Regions from separate parts of the Homo sapiens genome. Here region 1 is linked to region 2. The links come from fine-mapping of genetic effects on gene expression. Tissue or cell type: whole blood. Region 2 holds a variant in brackets; the other region holds the start of a gene. All regions are shown on one strand. Distances are between the middles of the regions.

Region 1 (8,107 bases), 110 kb after region 2:
CGAGCTACTCGGGAGGCTCAGGCAGGAGAATGGTGTGAACCCGGGAGGCGGAGCTTGCAGTGAGCAGAGATTGTGCCACTGCACTCCAGCCTGCGCGACAGACCGAGACTCCGTCTCAAAAAAAAAAGAGTAATCTGTCTGCTAATGCCTAATTTCATAAATTAGGTACAGTTTTGTATTTTTTTGGAGACTGAGTCTCGCTCTGTCACCCAGGCTGGAGTGTAGTGGCCCAATCTTGGCTCACTGCAACCTCCGCCTCCCGGGTTCAAGCAATTCTCCTACCTCAGCCTCCTGAGTAGCTGAGATTACAGGTGCCTGTCACCATGCCGGGCTAATTTTTTTGTATTTTTAGTAGAGACGGGGTTTTACCATGTTGGCCAGGCTGGTTTCAAACTCCTGACCTCAAGTGATCTGCCCGCCTCGGCCTCCCTAAGTGCTAGGATTATAGGCGTGAGCCACCACACCCGGCCAGGAACAGTTTAATACCTTTCCCTACCCCACTCCCCACTGAAAAAACCACAAGGGCATAATCTCAAAATGAAGTCCTTTCAATCAGTGGTCCCCAACATTTTTGGCACCAGGGACCAGTTTCAAGGAAGAAAATTTTCCTTGGTTTTGGGATGATTCAAGTGCATTACCTTTATTACACACTTTATTTCTAGTATTATTACACTGTATAATATATAATGAAATAATTACACAACTCACCATAATGTAGAATCAGTGGGAGTAACAGTCTGTGGCCTCAGGGTTGGGGATCCCTGCTTTAAGAGGAATTTAGACTAATGTGAACTATTAACTTGTACTTACTTTTCTTATTTCTTGTACATTGGAGAGCCACAGGGCTAACTGACCTAAAACTATTTCATGTAATACTGATTCTTTGACTTGGCCAACAGCGATTTCATGTTAAAAACAAACAAAATATTGATGCATTTACAGTATGCAAAGGGTGTCTTTGGTTAAAAAACAACAAAAAACCGGAGGCTTTGTACTTCCCAGTTTGGATTCAAGGCAAATGCTCGTCAATCCTCACTGACTCCCTGTTTCACTCTGGTGCACAAACTTATCACCATTATTCTCCCCTTGAACAAGCTGGAGCTTGCCTGTGATTTGAAATCTACACAGCTGCGGCTGAAAATATCCTCCTGATGTATTCTTTCTTAAAAACTAGAAAAGATGGTGCCAGCGGTGCAAAACTAGTATGAGTGAACATGCATTTAAATTTCACATTTTATTTATAGGTGAAATTTGAATGATTTCAATCATTAATCTATAGATTTTCTTTTCCTGTTTTGACAAATATAAACCATGATTTTTAAAAAATTCAAATAAGAATGTTTTTAGCTGGGTGTTAATTTAGCTGGTCAAAGAAAATATTCAGCGAATAATTTGGCTCCTTCACAAGGAAAAATGAGGTGATTTGGTCATCTGAAATTCTTAAACTGTCAGTAACAGTGAAAAATATAATATTCTGCTTTTTATATAGTTCTAAGGAATTATTTATCTTTATAAAAACATCCATATTCATTCGGATTATTGTCAATACTTGCCAGGAATAACCTGTGTCTTTACTACCAAAATGAACATATTGTTATGATTATCAACTAATAAGAGAGGTGTTGAAACACTTTGTAATAACAAGATTTTCTTAATAGTTACAACGGTAAATCAAAATATTTATTGCCTAGTACATATCAAGAAGTTTTTCAAAGTGGATGTACACACTCAATTCTCTATACGGAGATCTCATTTTAATCAGAGCCATCAACCTTATTCCTTGTTGCACAAGATACTGTGTGTTTGTGCATACGTGGGAGTGTGTGTAAACTGCTTACTTCATTTTAGATAAAGTACAAGCTCATGTAAATATATGGTTTTCAGTAAGGCCTTACTAAGGCTATCTGAAAATCCAGAGTTCATAGATGCCTAGATAATCGCCTTACAGTGTCGTTATACACAGCTTCTACAATTGTGAGGCAAAACTAGACAATGTGCATGCAGGCGATGAGACAGACGTATAATAAGCACTTAAACTCATCTTTGGCTACAACGGCCAGAGGTAGCTCCATATCTGCTGTCTTCTTCCCACAGCCACTTCATGACAGCGGATCCCAGATTCATGATTTGATTCCAGATCTTGAGCAAGAGCCGTGTGTAATGCATTACTGGCACTTAATTAACTTTGCAAAGGTAGCAGGAATAACTAAACTGAGTTGTTAAAGCTATTACCATTTACGAAAATCAGTCATGCTGCATCATAAACAGATTTTTCGAGATCCACTTAGAAAATCGAGCTTTTCCAAGGACCAATTTCTATGTCAAACTGAATTATAAACTATACACTGGTTAGTGTTTTCTTTACAATGAAAAAAATTAACATTTAGACTTCTAATTAAAAATTCAACCAAACTAAGAAAAAAAACCTGCTTATTGCCTTCCATATACAAAGCACTGTATCAGTCTAAGGTGGAACACCACACCCTAAAAAGGTGAGCTCATCCTGCAAGTCAAGAAAAATAAAAATGGCATTGTGCATGTTTCACAAGAGGGCTGTGGTCACAGCCAGAGCCCTGCAGGTCAAATCATGTCCCGTCAGTAGCACTGATCATAGTTCTGCCAATATCCCCGCCACCAGTCAAAGGCACGCTAGTCTTACTTTATATGTGGAGGATTACTGCATATACTTTGGGTCTGCATTAGTCTTTGGAGTAGGGTATAATTATCAAAGTATGTTTAAAAACACACACGCAGATCTGTTAGGTCCCCTAGAAGAGACTGAGTTCAGATGCATTTTAACTAGAAGATAGAGGTACATTATTTCAAAAAACAATTAATTCGCTTTAAAAACCTAAAACACTGGAGATGATACAAACCTGAGCTGGCACAGTGTATGGGTTTTCAGAGAAGAAAACACACAAACTGCAAAGAAAGCTGGAATTTTCTGCAGTGTTTACATTTTATTACCTGGCTAATGGGGACCATGCTTCCTTTTGTGGGGAAGTGACGTCCAAAGGATTACACAAAAGAAAGGGCACCAAGTTGCTGATATAGTCCCCCGGAAACACAAATAAACAGGATTGGGTTGGAAGCCCTGGGCCACTTCAAAGAAAAAAATCAAGTCAATGGTAATAGTAAGAAATGAAAACAGGCAGGGTAGCTTGCTGTCTGTGTTTAAAACTATTAAACCCGGTAGGTAAAGCCCATTTGGCTTTAAGGTTTTATTAGGCTCTCACAGACCCCATCTCCACCCCCACACACATTGCTAATCACAGTAGACCCCAGCTGTGATTCCCATCCACCCCCAGGAAAGGAGAGGGGGCTTCCCACTGTGAAAGAAAATGCCTTCTCAGACAAGAACTATGCTCCAGTCCTGACTTTCAGCAAGGCAAGCAGGGAGCTTCCTCCATGCTGGGAAAATGGCATACAGTACTTCACCTGCTAGGTACATTAAATTTGTCAACTCTGCTTCACGTCGCGAGTGTAGGGAATGTGTTTGCTTTTTAGATTTCAAATCGGATTAAAATAATTAAGTTTTCTAAACAACAATGCCATGCTTAAACCAAAGGACACGCCCTAGAACAAGAGCTAACAAGAACTAGCCTGACCGGTAAAGTAGACTGAAATATCTATTGAAAACGTTAACTGCTAAAACTGCCTGAAAGGGCTTTTTTAAATGAGAAAGTTTTTTCAGCTATATCAAGTTGAACGAATCCACTGATATTAGGGAAGGCACGTTATTTCAATATTTATATTTTAATCATAAGAAGAAACGAGAAGGAAGAGAAATGGGAAGAAATTTCAGGTCTCCAAGAAACTTTGTTCATTATATTTACTCATCTAAACTTGCAATGCTTGAAATAATCTTTCGTACGTAACCGACAAAACCCAGGAAAAAAACTATACAGTTTGAACTACGGCCTTTTTTTTTTTTCTGTTTCTGAGCTTGGTGTTGGCCACCCAAAGCTACTGCTGCTGCATTTGGTTCAGGTCGGATGCATGAGCCCGAGCTCGTCCTAAACAGGCATTCTGAAAAGCACTGGCTCCCCCGACCCTGTGAGGGCCCATCACGCGCGGCGGCTTTTGCAGGCCGCGGCCCCGAGGGCTTCCTGGAGGCGGCGACGGCGGCGGCGGCGGGCACTCACCGTACTCCATGAGGCTCTGACAGCCCTCCTCGTAGGACCCGCTGCCGCCGCCCTCTTGGGAGCATTTCCACCACAGCGAGGACGTCTGGCCGTGGTCGCTAGACTGCAACCAGCCGCGGCCGGCCAGCGCGATGATGTCGAAGGCGATGGCGCTGAGTAGGAGCAGGGGCAGGATCCAGCGGCAGCGCTCGCAGGCCAGGCCGCAGCGGATCATGTTGACGGGCGGCGCGGGGCCGAGCGGAGCGGAGCGGAGCGGGTCGGAGGAGCGCGCGGGACGGGCGACAGCAGAGAGTGGCCTGCGAGCGCGGGCGCCGCCACAAAAGCGAAGAGGCCGCGGGGAGGCGGCTCCCGAGGACGCCGCTCCGGGCGGCCCCACCTAGATTCCGGTGACTCAGAGCGCGCCCGCCCCGACCTGCCCTGCCGGGCCGGGGCGGGCGGGGCCGCTGGTAAACAGGCTGGGTTCTGGTGACACCGGGCGGCGGCGGAAGGCGGCCCGAGGGTCCCGCGCGTCCCACAACCCTCCAGTCCCGCTCTCCTGGCCTCTCCAGGCGCGTGTTTTGTCTTCCTGGCGCACCAACATATACACTTGTTTATCTGCACAGCGCCAGCCTAATATCTGACCCCTGATGTCGCATCGTGGGGCGGTGGTCAGCAGTGCCATATCTGAGTTTTCAGCAGTGTGAGATGGGTGTTCTAATTGCACCTGTGGATAAAGGCTGCACTCCTTTGGACGCGTGCACCCAAACCCAGAAGCCCGTCCCTGACCCCTGCTGACACAGGTGATCCCTTCCTCCTAGGCTCCGCCTTTGCACCTTGGACCGTGGCTCCCCGGGTACTCTTATCTCTTTGCATGCTGTTCTTTCCTGCTGGGTTGCCAGATTTTGGAAAGCGGAGGCGATGCTGAATTTATCTGTGTATCCTTAGTGTCCGGCACCGTGTTTGGATCTCAAGGGGAGCTCAGTGAATTTGATGAATGAACATGTAATTTAACAAATGCTCGCTTCCTTTCGGAAAGGCTTCATCTGGCTTCCCCAGATAATTTCATGTCGCCTCTGCTGCAGTCCACTTCCTATCACGAATCTCTACCTATTTAAACTGCACTCTCTCTACTCTTCATTTACTATTTTGAGGTTTTTCCAAATAAAAATCATACGTCAGCATGCAACCTGCATTTAGGATCCCCCCTTCGGTGTCCTGGGCTAGCTCCCGTCGCAGTTCTGACTCCTAAGATGTGACAGGAAGGGTGGGGTGGCAGCCAGGTGTGCCGCTGAGGACAAAGGAGTTCTCAGTGTCAGGCACCTCGGTGGCCTTGGGAAAATCACTGAAACATCGTATGGGGGTCATGTCTTAACCCTGTACCTCCAAAGATTTCTTCTGAATCCCCTATTTTTTCTGTTAATTTAATATAAAAGTGGGAACTACTTAAAAATATTTTAAATTGTATTCCAATTTGATATTCTCAATAGAAACAGAATACTCTTTTGACTTATGCCATTTTCTGGCAATTCTTGAGGACGAATAAAAGCATGGAGAAAGTATCTGAAAATACATGAAATAATTTCCCTAGCCTTCATTTTACATAATTCAAGTTTTACATAAACCACGTCATATATTTTTATTACAGGAAAATATTTTCACTTTCAAAGAACACAAGAGGGTGTTCTGCCAAAAGTTAATTTTGTATCGTGGAAGCTGTGTGAAGAAAATGGTGATATTTATGTTCTCAGGGTTTTCAAAAGTAATGAAGATATTTGTTTAATTAGCTATGTATAATATATTTGTGAGAAAAAAAAATTCTTATAAGTCAAATACTGACCAGAAGCAAAGTGGCTTCAGACAAAATGAGAGTTTTGCAGGCATCTTAATATCTCTGGATAATTTTGGACTTGATATATATAATTTATTTTCGTTATTCAATGAAACCATTTCCGATGGGCTTGAGGAAAAGAGCTCATTAATGCCGAGGTGAACACAAAGAGATTAGCTCTTCACAATTTCTGGAAGAGACCACATTGACCCTGGTGGGTTTCCAACAATAATATACCCAACATGTGGTACAGACTCTGGAACCGGATGGTTCAGGTTTACACGCTTTCTCATATTCGCTGTGTGACACTGGGCAGGTTAGTTCAGTTTTTTGTGCCTCCATTTCCTCATCTGTAAGACAGACAGTGCTAACCTCAGTGTTTTAATGATTGTTAAAAGAGCAAATTCATCTAAAGTGCTCAAGATAGTTCCTGCATATAGTAAGGGTTGATGATGATGATGATGATTTTTCATATAGGTTTTCCACTTTTGAACATTGAAAGAGGGGAATGTCCATGTTTCTAAAGGGCAAATTCTATAGGTGAATACCAACTGTAAGTGACTAAGTTATTTGAGACAATGCAATCATTCATCCTAGCCATATTCATAAAATGATGGCTCATAGAGAACAGTAGGCAGTTGGATAGTTCCCCCTGCTGGACAATGTAGGGATTGCGCCTGAGCACTGAGCACTTGGCAAAAATGTAAATTGCACCTACAGAAAGTTTTTTTTTAATTGAGGCTTGACTGACATACAAAAAAGTGATATTTAATATATACAACTTGACGAATTTGAAGATAAGTACATACCCATGAAACTATCACCATAAACAAAAAGGTTTTATTTTTCTAATTTGGGGTTATGGTTATAAAACCAATGACTGTTACCAACAAAAATATATAAATAAATAATTTTAAAAATAAAAATTGGTAGAAAGTAATAGTAATAATAATAATAGCAGCTAACAAACATCTGCTGGAGTTTACTATGTCCCAGTGGGTGTTTCACATCTACCTTATGAGGCATGTACCAGCATCTCCTTCATTTACACAAGGGACTGAGGCACAACGAAGTTAAGTAACTTGCCCAAGACCATGCAGTCACGGAGTGGCAAAGCCAGGCTTCAACCTAGGCAGCCTGACAGCAGAGATAGTGCTATTCATCACAGTAAGCACTCGTAAGAGTTTATGGATGTATCCAAATGTCTCCTTTCTTCCCTTCTTTGGTCCTTGTAAACACCCAAACTACTCCTAGTTATCTCCCAAGCTGCAGTGACATGATCTCCCTGCCACCGTTCTGGGCATCTCTGTAGGACCATTGGGCCTTTGACATGGTTCTCTTGTGGCTGTCCAGTTGAGTCCATGGATGAAGTACCCTCCAGTAGATATGGAGTGATTGAGTTTCCTCTGGATGTGGCAAATGCTCCCACTGTCAACCATTTGGCAAAGATGCAGGGCCTTATTTTTCACATTGAACATTGATGAGATCACGTGATAGGTGTGGACCATTGAGAGTCCTTAATAATAGCATAGCCTGAGTTAGAACCAATAGCCATGATCCAGAAAACCAAGAGTATCTTATGTAAATTAACAGTGACTGTGAATACACAGTAAACGTCAACCCAGGATTCTTCGACCTCACCCACCCAGTCCTGCTCCTCTGACCTGATGAACACCTACTGACCCCTTGACCTCAGCAAAACTTCACTTCCACAGAAAGCCCCCAACTAGATTAAGTTCCCGTTACACATCCTCAAAGCCCTGTATGTCTTTCCTTCAAAACTTTTCTCACAATTTTAATTATATATTTATTCTGAATAATTTGTATCCACTCCCACTGCAATGTAAATTAGATGTTGACAAAAGTGTCACATGTTACCTCTCACCACTGTGTGCACAGTACCCAGTGCCTGGAACATGATAAAATTCCAAGAAACACTTGTCAAATGAACATGAGAATCTGTCTAGTCTCAAAATAACTCAGAGGGTCTCTGAGCACTCTTCCTTTTAGAGGGTCTTATTTTTAAAACTGTCATCCTTATTCTATCTCAGCATAATATCCTATGATTTTTTCCCCTTGAAATCATTGACAGATAATAAGTCTTCTAACATTAAGCGGAGATCACCTTTCTTTCATTCCTCCATCACTCATCTCT
Region 2 (8,107 bases):
TCTCTTCAAAGCTGTCAGACAGGGACGTTTAAGTGTGCAGAAGTTTCTGCTGCCTTTTGTTCCACTCAGAAGGTTTTTTTGCATGCATGAATAAATGAATGAATGTTCAAGCCCTCACAAGTCCACAACTAAATTCCCATTTCAAATTGATCTCTTAGTCACAAATTCATTCCTAAGCATTTCGTGCCCAAAACTGGGTAGGAAATAAGTGAAAAAGCTGGAGTAAAATAGACATTCTTGGAGAATGACTGTACACAGAATCTTACATATTTCTGAAAATGGAGTTGGCAGCTAAGAGTTTTAAAAGATCCTGAAATTGGCCAGGTGCGGTAGCTCATGTCTATAATCCCAGCACTTTGGGAGGCTGAGGTGGGTGGATCACTCGAGGCCAGGAGTTCGAGACCAACCTGGCTAACATGATTAAACCTTGTGTGTACTAAAAAATACAAAAATTATCTGAGCGTGGTGGCACACACCTTAGTCCCAGCAACTGAAGAGGCTGAGTTACGAGAATTTCTTGGGCCTGGGAGGCAGAGGTTGCAGTGAACTGAGATCATGCCACCACACACTCCAGCCTGGGTGACAGAGTGAGACTCTGCCTCAAAAAGAAAAAAGATACTGAAATTATTGCAGTACAGCTTTATGTAGGTACCTGATGCTAATGCCAGAAATTCTGAAGCTAACTTTGTTCTCTTAAGGTAGTCTCCCCTTGGCAAGTCTAGCTTATATTTTAGTTAAGGTCAAGGATTTCTATGAGTAACACAGATTTCAAATATTCTATCCCAATATCCTCATATTTTTTAGTTAAAGTTCTAAATTTTTGTTTCAGAAATATGGAGTCATAACTATAACACAAATATGAGTTTAAGGATAGATTTTGTTGGAAAGGGAGGTTCAGGGATGGAAAGAACTGGAGGAATTATGCATCACAGATAGAAAAAAGAAATGGAAATCTAGTTTAACAGCTCTGTCTGGTTCAGCAAATATTTATTAATCACCTTCAGTGTGCATAAGGCTGTCATCCTTGAGAGAAGGAAAATGCATACAGCAAGCCCATATTCACCCCTGATTTCTGCTTGGGAGGACTACTAAACTTCTTCCAAGGGAAGTGGCCTAAACAGATATCATTCTTTCCAGGCAGAGGAGACTGAGATCGGGGTCTGTGCTGCTGATGCAGGTGGAATTTGTGGACAGGGTAACAGACAGAAGGGAGCTGGACGGGGAAGGAGCCGCAGAAATATGCATAGGATTTTCTCAAGTCTTTGCCAAATACTAAGCTGTGTTTAGGCACAGTAGACACCTGAAGGCCTAGCAAACAGCTTCATGAAGATTGAGAGGTGAATCCAGATTTTAGAGACTGCACAATGTTAGGAGGCATCGGAATTTCAACAGCCAAAATAAGAAAACCTCATGATCACCCCAGTCATTCAGATGAGTCTCAGAAAGGCCATGGTAGAACTAGGGATCATGCTCTAGAGTAAGGGCTATTCTAGAACTGGCCAAGCAGAGCCAATAATCTAATCTCATCAGGATTAACGCAGTCTACCAAGAAATTATTGCCTTCCCGGACACAAGTAAACAATCTTAAATGGAAAAAATATCCTGACTTTCAATGATGTTGCATTCACAATCTCCAACAAACAATGAAAAACAAATCACTAGACATGTAAAGAAGAAGAAAAATGTGATCCAAAATCAGAAGAAAAAATGGTAAATTGAACATATTTATGTATATATTTTGAGACAGAGTCTTGCTTTGTCACCCAGGTTGGAGTGCGGTGGTACAATCTCAGCTCACCGCAACCTCCACCTCCTGGGTTCAAAAGATTCTCCTGCCTCAGCCTCCCGAGTAGCTCGGATTACAGGTGCATGCCACCACACCCAGCTAATTTTTGTATTTTTGGTAGAGACAGGGTTTCACCATGTTGGCCAGGCTGGTCTTGAACTCCTGACCTCAGGTGATCTGCCCACCTCAGCCTCCCAAACTGCTGGGATTACAGGCCTGAGCCATTGTGCCTGGCCTGGCAGTTAGAGATTTTAAAACAACTTTTATAAACATGTATATGGATCTAGGGAAAAACATAAACACAGTAATAAAGAAAACATTTTTAAAGAAACAAATATGACTTTTAAAGCTAAAAAAACTATAAATAAAATTTAAAATTTACATAAGAGGTTTACAGCAGATTAGATACTGCAGAAGAAAAGACTAGCACACATAAACAGAGAACATGCAGAGAAACCGATAAGTTGGCTTTTCCTCAGAAATAACACAAGCAAGATGAAAATGAAACATCTTTAAAATATAGGAAGGAAAAAGACTGTCTATCTAAAATTTAATATATAGTAAAAATGTTCATCAGAAATTAAAGCCAAATTTAAAAGTTTTAGATAAAATGTGAGAGAATTTATTGTCAATAGACAACAAAAATGGTAAAGGAGGCATTTCAGGTTGAGAGGAAACAGTGCTATGAAAACTCAAACCTGCATGAAGGACTAAAGTTTGCTGAAAATGGTGAGCGTGAGCAAGTATAAGACTTTTTCATGTTTCTTAATTTACTTAAAAGACAATAGATAGTTTAAAGCAAAAAATAATAGCAATGTTTTGTGGGAATTATATGTAGAAATTAAATGTATGACAAAAACCGCTTACAGGATATGTGGGACAAGAGAGAGATTAAAAACATTAATGTCTTTTTTAATGTCAAATATTAAATGGAATTATGCAACTTAAATCTTTTTGCATTATGTATAAAATGATTTAATATTCATCAAAAGTAGACTAGTAAGTTAAGAATGCATATTGTAATTCTTAATGCCACCCACTTTATAAAAAGCATACTTTTAAGTACTCTATTTCTACCATTGGCTTTTTTGCTAATTAAAAAAAGTCAATTGTAGAAATAAAATAGAATGCTTAAAATTATTTTATTGACCAAAAAGAAAGTAGAAAAAAGAAAAAGTAAAAATAGAACTGATGGAAAAAATAGAAAACAAATAGCGTGTACTCAGCCATATCAATAATCACATTAAATGTAAATATAATTAACACTGAAATTAAAAGGCAGACATTGTCAGTGTACATTAAAAAGCAAACCCCAACAGCTTGCTGGGTGAGATTAAAGATGCAAATTAAAAGAAAAAGGATGGGGAAAAAATATGCCAAGAAAGTACTAATTATAAGAACGTTACAGTGGCTATATTAATATCAGACAAAATAAACACCGAGACATATGGCAATATTAGAGACAAAGAAGGATATTTTATAATAATAAAAAGGTCATTATGTATA[C/T]CTAATGACAAAACTTCAAAATATATGAAGCAAAAACTGACAGTACTACAGGGAAAAACAAACCCACAATTATACTTGGTGATCTGAGCCCTCCTTTCTAACTGATAGGAAAAGTTAGTAACATCATTAAGGATATGGAAGATCTGAATAATGCCATCAGACCATTTAACTAACTGATATTTCTAGAATATTTCCTATAAAAAGTCCAGAATAGAGGTTCTTTTCACATGCACATAGAATTATACCAAGATAGACCATATACTGGTCAATAAAATAAGTTTCAACAAATTTAACAGATGTGACATCATACGAAACATATTTTCTGAAAACAAAAAGAATTAAGTTAGAATTTAAAAAAAAAAAAAGATATCTACTAAGTACAATGTGGTATCCTAGACTGATCCTGGAGTAAAGACCTTAGTGGAAAAACTGATAAAATCTGAATCTAGAAATAGCAATATACCAATGTTGATTTTTTTTTAGTATTGACGAATGTAGCATGGTAATGTAAAATGTTATCTCTGGGGAAACTGAGTGACAGGCATACAGAAACTATCAGTTATATTTCTGCAGCTTTTTTGTAAATCTACAACTATTCTAAAATAAAACTTTTTTAAAAACCAGTTTTTTTTCAAATCCCCAAATATTTGGAAAGTAAGCAATACCATTACAAATATCCCATGGCTCAAAGAAAAAAATCGCAAGCGGTATTAGAAAATATTAGAATTAAATGGTAATCACAACATTTTAAAATTTGTGGGATTCAGCTCTTTACTTAGAAGTTTGGGCCTGTAAGTGCTTAATTAGAAAAGAATGAAGGTCTAAAATCAATTATCTACCCTTCTTCAAGCAGCCAAAAATATAAGAACAAATTAAACCCCAAGTAAGTAGAAAGAAGGAAGCAATAAAGAGTGGAAATCAATGAAATAGAAAACAGACAATCAAAAGAGAAACATCAACCAAGTCAGAAATTGTTTCTTTGAAAAGTTAAATAAAATGAATAATCTCCTAGCAATACCATTCAAGAAAAAAAGGAAAATACAAGCCATCAATATGAGGAATGAAAGAGGGAACATAGAGCCTATAGACACTAAAGGACAATAAAGAAATACATAAAGAAATGTATGCCAGTAAATTTGAAACTTTATATAAACAGATTAAATTATTTGACAAATACAAATTAACAAAACTAATACAATAAGAAATAGAAAGTCTGAAGAACCCTATATCTGTTCAGGAAAATTAATTCATAGTTAAAATCTTCCCCACAAAGAAAACTTCAACCTTGGCCGGGCACGGTGGCTCACGCCTGTAATCCCAGCACTTTGGGAGGCTGAGGCAGGCAGACCATGAGGTCAGGAGATAGAGACCATCCTGGCTAACACGGTGAAACCCCGTCTCTACTAAAAATACAAAAAATTAGCCGGGTGTGGTGGCGGGTGCCTGTAGTCCCAGCTACTCGGGAGGCTGAGGCAGGTGAATATCATGAACCTGGGAGGCAGAGTTTGCAGTGAGCCGAGATTGCGCCACTGCACTCCAGCCTGAGCGACAGAGTGAGACTCCGTCTCAAAAAAAAGAATAAGAAAACTTCAACCTCAGGTGAATTTTATCAAACATTTAAGGAAGAAATATTACCAATCATACACAGTCTTTTCAGAATACAGAGGAGAGAACATTTCCCAACTTGCTTTTTGAGACCAGCATGTCTCATAAAACCAGATAAATACATTACAAAAATAGAAAACTTCAGACCAATATCCCTCATAAAAATAAATGCAAAAATCCTTAACAAAATATTAGCAAATTCATAAATACACAGAAATAATAATATATCATGACCAGGTAGGATTTTTCCCCCAGGAATGCCAGGTTGATTTAACAATGGAAAATTAATAGATCAGTGTAATTCACTACTTAACAAAAAAGGGGGGAAGCATATAAACATCTTAATAGTTGCAGAAGAAGCATTTGCCAAATTCAACACCTATTCATCATAAAACACAACACAGCATATTAAAAATATAAGGAAACTTCCTCATTTTGACAAAGATCTAAAACCCTAAAGGTATCATCACAATGACAAAATTCTTAAGTCATGCTGAGATTGGGAAGGCACAATGTCCACTGCGCACCATTTTTATTCAATATTGTACTGGAGGTCTTAGTGCAATGAGGCAAGACCATGAAACAAACAAAGACATAAAGATTAAAAATAAAGGATCAAGGCTTTCTGCACTAAGTAGAGAGGCATCCATACGGTCCTGTTCTAGATTCCCTTCATAACTTAAAGGGAAACTCACACAACGTCCAGAGCCCTTGATGTCATGCAAGTGAAGAAGTATGTCCTCAACTATCTTGCAGCAGTAACTGACTTATTGCACCAACCTTGACTTCCAAATGGAACAGTACATCTACAAAAAGGAAGAGTGATGGCTTCTACATCACAAATCTGAAGAGGACCTGGGAGAAGCATCTGCTGGCATCTCATGCTATTGTTGCCATTGAATACCCTGCCAATGTCAATGTCATATCATATAGGAATGTTGGCCAGCAGGCTGTGCTGAAGTTGCTGCTGCCACTGGAGTCACTCCTATTGCTGGCCACTTCACTCCTGGAAACTTCACTAGCCAGATCTAGGCAGCCTTCCAAGAACTGCATCTTCTGGTGGTTACTGGCCCCAGGGCTGACCACCAGCTGCTGACAGAGTCGTCTTATGTTAACCTGCCTACCAACCATTGCTCTGTGTGACACAGATTCTCCTCTGCACTGTGTGGACATTGCAATCCCATGCAACAACAAGGGCTCTCACTCAGTGGGTCTGATGTGGTGGAGACTGACCCAGGAAGGTCTACACATGAGTGTCACCATCTCCCATAAGCACTCATGGGAGAAGGTCATGCCCGATATTTACTTCTACAGAGATCCTGAGCAGATTGAAAAGGAAGAGGCAGGCTGCTGCTGAAAAAGCTGCGGCCAAGGATGAATTTCAGGGAGAATGGACTGCTGCACCTCATGAGTGCACCGCTACTCAGGCTGACTAGTCTAAAGACGTGCAGGTGCCCTCTGTGCCTATTCAGCAGGTCCCTACTAAGACTGAAGCATTCAGCCTGCCACAGAAGACTGGTCTGCAGCTCTCACTGCTCCGGCTGCTGAATGGGTAGGAACAACCACTGAGTGTTCCTAAGCTGTTCTTCCACAGACTCTTAAGCAAAATAGAAATAAGGTTGATGGAAAATAAACATTAGTTTCTAAATAAATAAATAAGAATGACTCAAAAGAAGACATGATTGTTTATAGAGAAAAATCTCAGTCAATATATTATAAAAAAAACTTAGCTATGTTAGCAAAGTCACAGAATATAAGATGTATATGCAAAATTGAATTGTATGTTTATAGAGTAGCAATGATTGGAAATCAACATTGAAAATATCATAATATAGTGACATCAAAAATATTATCAAAAACTTTAACAAAAGATGTGTAAGACCTCTACACTAAAAATTATAAAACCTTACTGAAGGAAATTAAAGAAGACTGAAATAAATAATAAGACATACCACATCCCTGATTTAGAAGCTTCAATATTGCTATCAGTTCTCCCCAAATTAATCTATAGATTCACTGCCATTTTAATCAAGATCCCAGTAGGCTTAAAAAAAAAAAAAAAAAACAGAAACAAAAACTGATTCTAAAATTTTCACGAGAACACAAATGACCTAGAATTTAGCCAGGAAAACAAAATCTTTTTTAAAAAAATCAAAGTTGGAGGACTAACACTACTTGATTTTGAGACTTACTCTAAAGCTACAGTAATAAAGACAGTGTAGAACTGGCATAAGAAGAGACACATTGAGCAGTCAAAAGAATAGAGAGTTCAGAAACAGACCCACACATACGCAGTCATTTGATTTTCAGCATTGGCCATGAAAAATTCAATGGGGAAAAATGTTGTTTTCATAAAATTGTACTGGAATAACTGTATGTCTATATGGAAAATAAAGAAACTTGACACCTACCTCACAGCATACACAAAAATTAATTTGACAAAGACCATAGACCTAAACATAAAAGCTAAAACTTTAAGCTTCCAGAAGAAAATACAGGGGAAGGGAGGGGAGAGAAGAAGAGGGGATGGGAGGGGTAGGGGAAGGGGAAGGGAATAAGTGCCTTGCCCAGAGAGTGCTGCATACTGAGTTAGGAAAAGATTTCTTAGGATACCATAAAAGAAAAAAGATAAATTGGTTTTCATCAGAATTTAAAACTTCTACTCATCAGAAAATGAATGGGTCAGCCTCAGACTGGGATAAAATTGTGTGTGGGGGCTGGGTTTATATAGCTCTACATATTATAGAATATATATATATATCTTCTTCCACTCAAGAATAAAAAGACAACCCAATTTTTAAATGGCCAAAACACTTGCAATATTTATATGTATCCAAAAAGTACTTGAAAAAGTACTAACATCATTAGTCACTGGTGAAATGCTAAATAAATCACAATGAGATTCGATTTCACACCCATCAACACAATTAAAATTTAAAAATCGACAACATCAAATGTTACTGAGGTTGTGGAGCAACTGGAACTCTTATACATTGCTAATGAGGATATGAAATCATACAACCACTTTGAAAAACTGTCTATTTCCTATGTTACAGATACGCCTACCCTATGGCCTAACAATTCAACTCTAGGTATACATAAACCTAAGAGAAATAAACAATGTATGTCCACAAAAAGCCCTATAGATGAATGTTCATAACAACTTTATTTATAACAGAGAAAAAATATAGACAACCCAATGTCCATCAA

Evidence for each region. PIP is the estimated chance that this variant, and not a neighbour inherited with it, causes the effect.
Region 1: PERP starts here. The variant in region 2 is fine-mapped to the expression of PERP in whole blood (TOPMed, PIP 0.95).

Annotation. Positions count from the first base shown.
Region 1 is chr6:138,102,982-138,111,088 of GRCh38, forward strand. It overlaps PERP (p53 apoptosis effector related to PMP22), which reads right to left and starts at 4,438. Exons shown (of 3, transcript NM_022121.5): 1 at 4,146-4,438. The coding sequence starts at 4,359. RefSeq lists a silencer at 4,567-4,616.
Region 2 is chr6:137,989,672-137,997,778 of GRCh38, forward strand. It overlaps the pseudogene RPSAP42. Among named protein-coding and RNA genes, the nearest start is that of SIMALR, 48 kb to the left of the region's middle. The variant C/T (reference allele first, on the strand shown) is at 3,293.